Linked DNA regions of Homo sapiens. The gene in region 1 interacts genetically with each later gene. Each region holds a gene or a part of one and is shown on either strand. Other genes may lie near its edges.

Evidence for each region. Genes that interact genetically often act in the same process or in processes that back each other up.
Region 2: changes in PDIA6 (region 1) and GBF1 together harm fitness more than expected from each alone (negative genetic interaction), as found in Homo sapiens cells (one study listed by BioGRID).

Annotation. Positions count from the first base shown.
Region 1 is NC_000002.12:10,806,286-10,809,785, forward strand, and holds part of PDIA6 (protein disulfide-isomerase A6 isoform d precursor), read right to left. Parts: intron 1-3,500. UniProt on the Homo sapiens protein: May function as a chaperone that inhibits aggregation of misfolded proteins. Negatively regulates the unfolded protein response (UPR) through binding to UPR sensors such as ERN1, which in turn inactivates ERN1 signaling.
Region 2 is NC_000010.11:102,367,532-102,371,031, reverse strand, and holds part of GBF1 (Golgi-specific brefeldin A-resistance guanine nucleotide exchange factor 1), read right to left. Parts: coding exon 3,472-3,500; intron 2,815-3,471; coding exon 2,578-2,814; intron 2,294-2,577; coding exon 2,200-2,293; intron 1,822-2,199; coding exon 1,645-1,821; intron 1,322-1,644; coding exon 1,257-1,321; intron 1,172-1,256; coding exon 1,048-1,171; intron 859-1,047; coding exon 787-858; intron 649-786; coding exon 554-648; intron 326-553; coding exon 172-325; intron 1-171. UniProt on the Homo sapiens protein: Guanine-nucleotide exchange factor (GEF) for members of the Arf family of small GTPases involved in trafficking in the early secretory pathway; its GEF activity initiates the coating of nascent vesicles via the localized generation of activated ARFs through replacement of GDP with GTP.

The sequences.
Region 1 (3,500 bases):
GAGCCCAGGGAGGTCGAGGCTACGGGTGCAGTGGGCTGTGATGCACCACTCACTCCAGCCTGATAGGGCAAGACCTTGTCTCAAAAAAAAAAAAAAAAGAGAGAAAATATTTTTGTACTGCTGTTTTGTATAATGCGTTTTAAGGTAAGTGTTTTTACAAGAGCCAAAAAGTTAAAAAAAAAAAATTAAGTTTAGAAAGTAAAATGTTGACCAGATGCCATGGCTCACACCTATAATCCCAACACTTTGGAGGCCAAAGTGGGAGGACTGCTTGAGGCCAGCAGTTCAAAACCAGGCTGGCCAACACAGAATAGCAAAACCACATCTCCTAAAAAATAAAGACAGAAAGAAAGAAAGAAAGAAAAACGTTACAGTAAATTAAGGTTAATCTATTATCCAAGAAATAAAATTTTTAGAGCAACCCCCAGTCATGCAAGCTGCATTCACGGTAAATGTCCTGTACAGGTGTACTATTTTAATCTTTTATATCATATTTTTACTGCACCCTTTCTATGTTTAGATACACAAATGCTTGCCATTGTGTTACAACTGCATACAATATTCAGTACAGTAACATGCCGAACAGATTTATAACCTAAGAGAAATAAGCTATACCATGTAGCCTAGGTTTTTAGTAAGTTATGCCATCTAGGTTTGTATTAAGTACACACTGATGTTATTCACAATGAAGAAATCGTCTGATACAATAGCAATTAAAGAAATTTCTATTCCTGTCTTTTCAGCATCTCTGAAGTTGATCATAATTCAGATCACGTCTCTAATGTTAAGCAACACATGACAATATACAAAAATTTGCTGATTACCTCTAGAACAAGGTAAATAATGGAATATCCTCAGACTATTCTTGACTTCAACAAGGTTTTCCTATTTGCATCATGCTGGCTTTTGGATTGAAATAAATACACTTTTTAATTTTTTTTGAGAGAGGGTCTTGATCTGTCACCCAGACTGGAGTGCAATGGTGCAAACACAGCTCCCTGCAGCAGCCCTGACCTCCTGGGCTCAAGTGATCCTCCCACCTCAGCACCCCCAGTAGCTGGGACTACAGGTGCATCCCTGGCTAACTTTTAAATTTTTTGTAGAGACAGGGTCTCCCTGTGTTGCCCAGGCTGGTCTCAAGTGATCCTCCTGCCTCTGCCTCCCAAAGTGCTGGGATTACAGGTATGAGTGACCACGCCAGGCCAAAATGTACTTACAATGTTAACGAAATTTCTATCTATTCCTGTCTTTTCAGCATCTCTGAAGTTGATCATATCATTTCTTCCTTTTAATTTGTTGATATAGCAAATTATAAGTGAGACTGGCCTGTGTTCTCAAGTAGTGTGTGTACATGCCATCTTAGTTACATTTTCACATGCTTGCTTCACAATTAGAATTTGGAAGATTTCAAATGGACCTTTTTGGAATAACTAAATGGTACACTTTTTCTGGAAGGAGTGTACACCATTGTTCATTGTTTTACTGCTAAATCCTCCATCATACAACACGTTCAATTTTTCAAATCACTATCAAATGTTAGATCACTTAATTTTTGACAGCATTACTAACTAGAAAGTAGGACTTATCCCCATTTTGTAAATAAAGGTCTAGACCAAATGGCCCATCTATGGTCATACATATAAGGGGCAGGGCAGCTCTCCATTTCCAAGCTTTTCCTATTACACCATGCTGTCTTTTTAGTGCTCAAGATAAAGTGGTTCTGTACGCTATAGGTATGAATGAACAATTATGGTATTCAAGATTTACACTGCATTTGAATCACAGATATAGCCAATACTGTAAGAACTTATAAAACTGTTAATTTTACTAATAGTGAAGCCACTAAAGGGTTATCATTCAGAGGAAAGAATAGATTTATGCTTTCTAGAAGGAGTATTCCAGTTGCCATGTGGAAGGTGGATTGGGAGAATTATCCAGAGTGGTGTCACATAAACCAAGATACATGTGGAAGGGGCCACACTAACAAATGCTACTGGGAGATAAAGTAGCAAAGACTTAAAACCATCTACTGATTGGATTTAGTGACAAAGAAGTCACTGGGAGCCCTGGCAGTTGTGGTGGAGTGAAAATAACAGGCATGCAGTCTGCAGAAGGTTGGAGAGAATATAGGTAACTCTTTAAGCAGGTTTCATTATAGAGACCAGAGGCAGGCAAATGTAGAAAACAAGGAAGGTTTTCTTTGAAGATGGGAGTGATCTAGGAGAGGAAGACATATGCAGTGGGAGAGGCCAAAGATAAAATACAGGGAGTATCTGAATAAAATGCCCAGAGTCAGAAGAGGAGCGGGAACCCAGTCAGTGATGGAGTAGCCTTTGATAGGATGATCTCCTTTTCCATTTCAAGAGGTGGGAAAGGATGCCTGTGAATGGATGCCAGGCTAACCAAAGCGGGGCTGCTCTCTCAGTAACAGGTTATCCAGCATGATAGCCACTAGCTACATGTGGCTACCCCAAACTAAGATATGCTGGTAAAAACACACTGAATTCTGAAGACTTAATGGAGGGAAAAATGTAATCTCATTATTTTTCTTTTTTTTTGAGACGGCGTCTCACTCAGCTGCCCAGGCTGGAGTGCAGTGGTGCAATCTTGGCTCACTGCAACCACTGTCTCCTGGGTTCAAGCGATTCTCCCGTCTCAGGATTACAGGCATCAGCCATCATGCCCGGCTAATTTTTGTATTTTAGTAGAGATGGGGTTTCACCATGTTGGCCAGGCTGGTCTTGAACTCCTGACCTCAGGTGATCCGCCCACCTTGGCCTCCCAAAGTGCGAGGATTACAGGCGTGAGCCACCGTGCCCGGCCTCAATATTATTTTTCATTTTGAAAACACATGTTTAAATGATCTTAGATATACTCAGTAAATATATTAATTTCACCTGTTTCTTTTGGCCATTTTAAATGTAGCTACTAGAAAATTTAAAATTACATATATGTTTGCATTATATTTCTATTGGATGGCACTGCTCATTAATCTTTTCACTGCTGCAGAAAAGGTGAAGTAGAGTTTGACACGTTTAACAAAGCCAAGTAAATCAAGAACATAAGCACTGACAGTCCTAACTCTGAATAAGCTTGAAAGTAAGACTAAGGCTGGGTGTGGTGGCTTAGGCCTGTAATCCCAGAACTTTGGGAGGATGAGGCGGGTGGATAACCTGAGCCAGGAGTTTGAGACCAGCCTGGGCAACATGGCAAAACTCCATCTCTTGTAGAGAAAAAATATGAAATACAAAAATGCAAAAATTAGCTCGGTATGGTAGGGTGCATCTGTAGCCGCAGCTACTCCAGAGGCTGATGTGGGAGGATTGCTTGAGCCTGGGAGGCAGAGCAAGACCCGGTCTCAAAAAAAAAAAAAAAAAAAAAAAAAAACCCAAAAAATAGGATAATCTTCTACAGAGATGTACTACTTTTAAAGAACTTTATCTTTTTTGTAAAATCGATATGAATTTGGTACTTGCTCAGTACACTGAGCCTATTGTGAA
Region 2 (3,500 bases), on another chromosome or scaffold:
CAGGCTCACTCCCAGTACCACCCGCTAGACTGCACCAGCCCTGTGGTTGGTCACTGGACTCATGCTATGGGGCACTAAATGTACTCTCTGTCTCAGGCCATATTCATAATTGACAACTGTGGCCTTAATCCCTTGCATACCTGCCCACTCTCCAAGATGCATTCTGCTTACCTGAGCACTGATCTCTTCTCTCCGGAGAAGCCGAATGGCCAGGCGTAGCAACCCCACCACTGCCCGCTCCACAAGGAAGCAGAAATCTTGTGCCTGAACACAGAGGTGGTATAGATGGTCTCGAACAGTCTGCCACACACAGCCCACACGATCCCTGTGTAGACATAAAGGAATGAAGATAGTCTCAGCCAGAGGGGCCACTGGGCAACAGGTCCCCTAGGCCTTTCAGGACTCATTGGTATTATACCCTAAGTAGACAGGTATGATGAGTAAGCTTCTCCCCTGCTGCCTACAGTTCCCCAGAGCCCACTCAGCAAGATGGCTTCCATCCCTTTGGCACAAGCCCAGCATGGGGTCTGCCTAAAGACTACGCTCATCTTACCTGTTCTCCAACACAATCCTTAGCAGCATCTCTAGGCAGAAAGCAGCATCTTCCTCATCATATGTCTCTTCATCTGGTGTCACTGAGACCAGAGCCTGAAGGGGAACAGCAGCAGGAAAGTAGGCATGGAAAAGAAGCCAACCACTGGCCCTGCCCTGACAGAAATAATACTGTCCCTGTCACCCCTCCCAGATTCAGCCAGTTGTTCCATGTTTCCTTTCTTCATCCTTTACCTTCATGAGCTCCTGTAGTGACTCCAGCTGGAGGAACTTGCTTTCTGTGATCATTTTTTCTGGGTCACATTGCTAGAGAGGGCAAAAGAGAGAGGGGGTCTTTGACAAAGGCTGAAGAGAACAGAATGTCCCCAAGAGCCAGGGGGAGAGGGCAGAGTCAGCCCTGGTTACAAATCCTGGATGATTTATTCTTCAGTTCACCAAGTAGCATCTAATAGGAAGGTGTTTAGGCTTTCTCACCAGGGGTGGATGGGCAGTTACCTTTATACACTCTAAGGCCACTCTCTTGGCCTCTTGGTTTTCAGTGGATGGGCCCCGAACACTAGACTGCTCAGGACCACTCAGTGTTAGCCAGCTCACAAAGCTCAGCACTGTTGACTCTCCTCTGTAGAAAAAGGGCACATGGCCTGGTGAGCCCCAAAGTTCTGACTCTCCCTCCCCAAGCCCCTGAGCCTCTGGTCTGCTCTTACCGGTTTGATGGTGTCTCTTCCCGCTGTAGAGAGATCTTGCCATTGGGATCCACGAAATCTTCTACCTGGAAAAGTAAGTCAAAATAATTTCTTTCCATGTGTCCTTTGCATTTGTGCCCGCCTCCACCCACCAAAGTTCTCTGGATTTCCTCCTCTAGTCTTCTGCCCCTATGCTATTGTGCCAATTGGTGACTGGCAATGGCATCTACCAGCCTTCTTTTACAGCTATCCCCCAAGATCTGTGGTCTTACATTTGAGGCATTCCTGGTGAGCTGTGGCAGGCATCAGGCCCAACATTACTCTCAACCACTTACTTCTATGTACAGGTAGCATACAATGTTGCAGCTCTTGCCTTGTTATCGCTCACTAGTCTCCTACTAAGAATTACCTCTATCATAGCCTTGGGCAGTAGTTGGGCTCGGAAGAGCTGCAGCATGGCCTCCATGATATTCTTCCAGCCCTCCCGCAGGATGTCACCATGACGATGGGCCAAATGGAATACTGTCTTGGCTGCAATATGGGCTTTAGGGTTGCTTCCAAATACACTGGGCAGGTTCTCAATAGACTGGAAAAGAGGAAGAGAACAGACTTAAGGCCGAGCTAATGTCTGGAAAGGAAAATCTCTTAGGTCTCTGCCTATGATGGTTCCCTCAGGTCCTTTTGTTGGCTCTGCTTCAATCCCCCATAATACTGGTGGGAGTGGGTTAACCTAGTTAAGGCCTTCCCCACTCCTGTATCTCCTTTCCCATCCCCATTACATGAAGTAACACTAGTTTTATCCCAGAGTGTGCAAGACAGAAATGGCCTAAGCTCTGGTATATTCAAGTGGGGGCAGTGAGGGAAGACGCTGAGGGCAACCAGGTCTGTTGATAAGGGTAGATCCATGGCTAAAAGAGAGGTCCTCCTTTGGAGCTCCAAGTACACAGTTCCTGCACCTGCTCACCTCACTGCTGAGAGCTGTGAATTTGCATAGAGAGATGATGAGATTGTCAAACACATCGCTGAGGCCATAGTGGGCGGAGATCATGGCGCACTTCCTGTAATGTTACCCCCCATCCCAGAAACAGAGTCACTGGAAGGCCAAGCAGCCCTTCCAAGTCCCTGAGCTTGCATGGGGCTCTTCCCCAGTCAGTCCCAGGAAGAAACCTTTTAATTTTGTTTCTGTTTAAGACTGAGCCTACCCAAGCTTCAGCCTCCCTCCAAAAACTCAGGGGGAACCCCATTCTAATGAAGTAACAGTAGGAGTCAGAGAGGCATGGAGAAAACCATGTTAGCTCACAGAGCTAGTGGGAGGTGAAGACCAAGGCCAAAGCTGGGCTACCTGAAGCCTGAGATGGCTTTCTGGATGATTGTCTCCTCAAGGCTTTTGTCAAAGACATAAGAGAGAGCAGCAATAGTGGGGCCCCAGGTCATGGTGAAGAGGTCAAGATCATAGCTGGCAGTAGGCACACGCAGGAATATGCCCTCAGGGGTGGCACCTCGATGAAGCAGCACATTCCACACATAGTTCTCCCGAACCAAGCCTGTCTGCTCCTCAGGCATTACAATTTCCTCATTCCTGTCAGGAGGTAAGGGAAGGAGCAGTTGCACTGCTTTGAACCTGACTAGTTCCAAACCAAGACTAGGAGTTCATCCATACTAGCACTCTCCACTGATGAGAGGTCATCAGAACTGCAGCTCAGTGGTCTGCTTTCCACCCACCAGTGGGAGCAGACAGAAAGAAAGGAAGTGTCCCATAATCTCAAAGCCCTATCTGTAAGTGAGGCCTTTAGTTCTATAGTAAGATCACACATTCTTACTAGGTGTGATAAAATGAACAATTCTACCTTTTCTGATTTACAGTAAAAAACTAAGTGGCCCATTTCTGACCTGTAACCTGGGCCTCACACTCCAGTGCCCATCTTGGGTTCTCTACCAGCCAGCATCTTGTAATCTATACAGGAAAATGTACCTGTTTTAAGTTCAGAAAATGGGGCCATGATATCCTACTTAAGAGCAGCACTTTGGACCCTGGCTTAGAGTACTAGAGTCCCAATATCATTTGGGCTTCTTTAAGGAAGAAACAGTTGGCAGAGAGGGGGCTGCCCAACTAAGTCCTGAGGCTAAATCCAGGGCATGTGAGTCACTGCAGTCTGACATGACTCTAAAAACTGGGAAAGGAAGCAATGTGCTTCTTCTTAACAGAGATACTGCACTATTCTCTATGTATACTCACTTGATGGCATGGTACATGTCCTCCAGGAT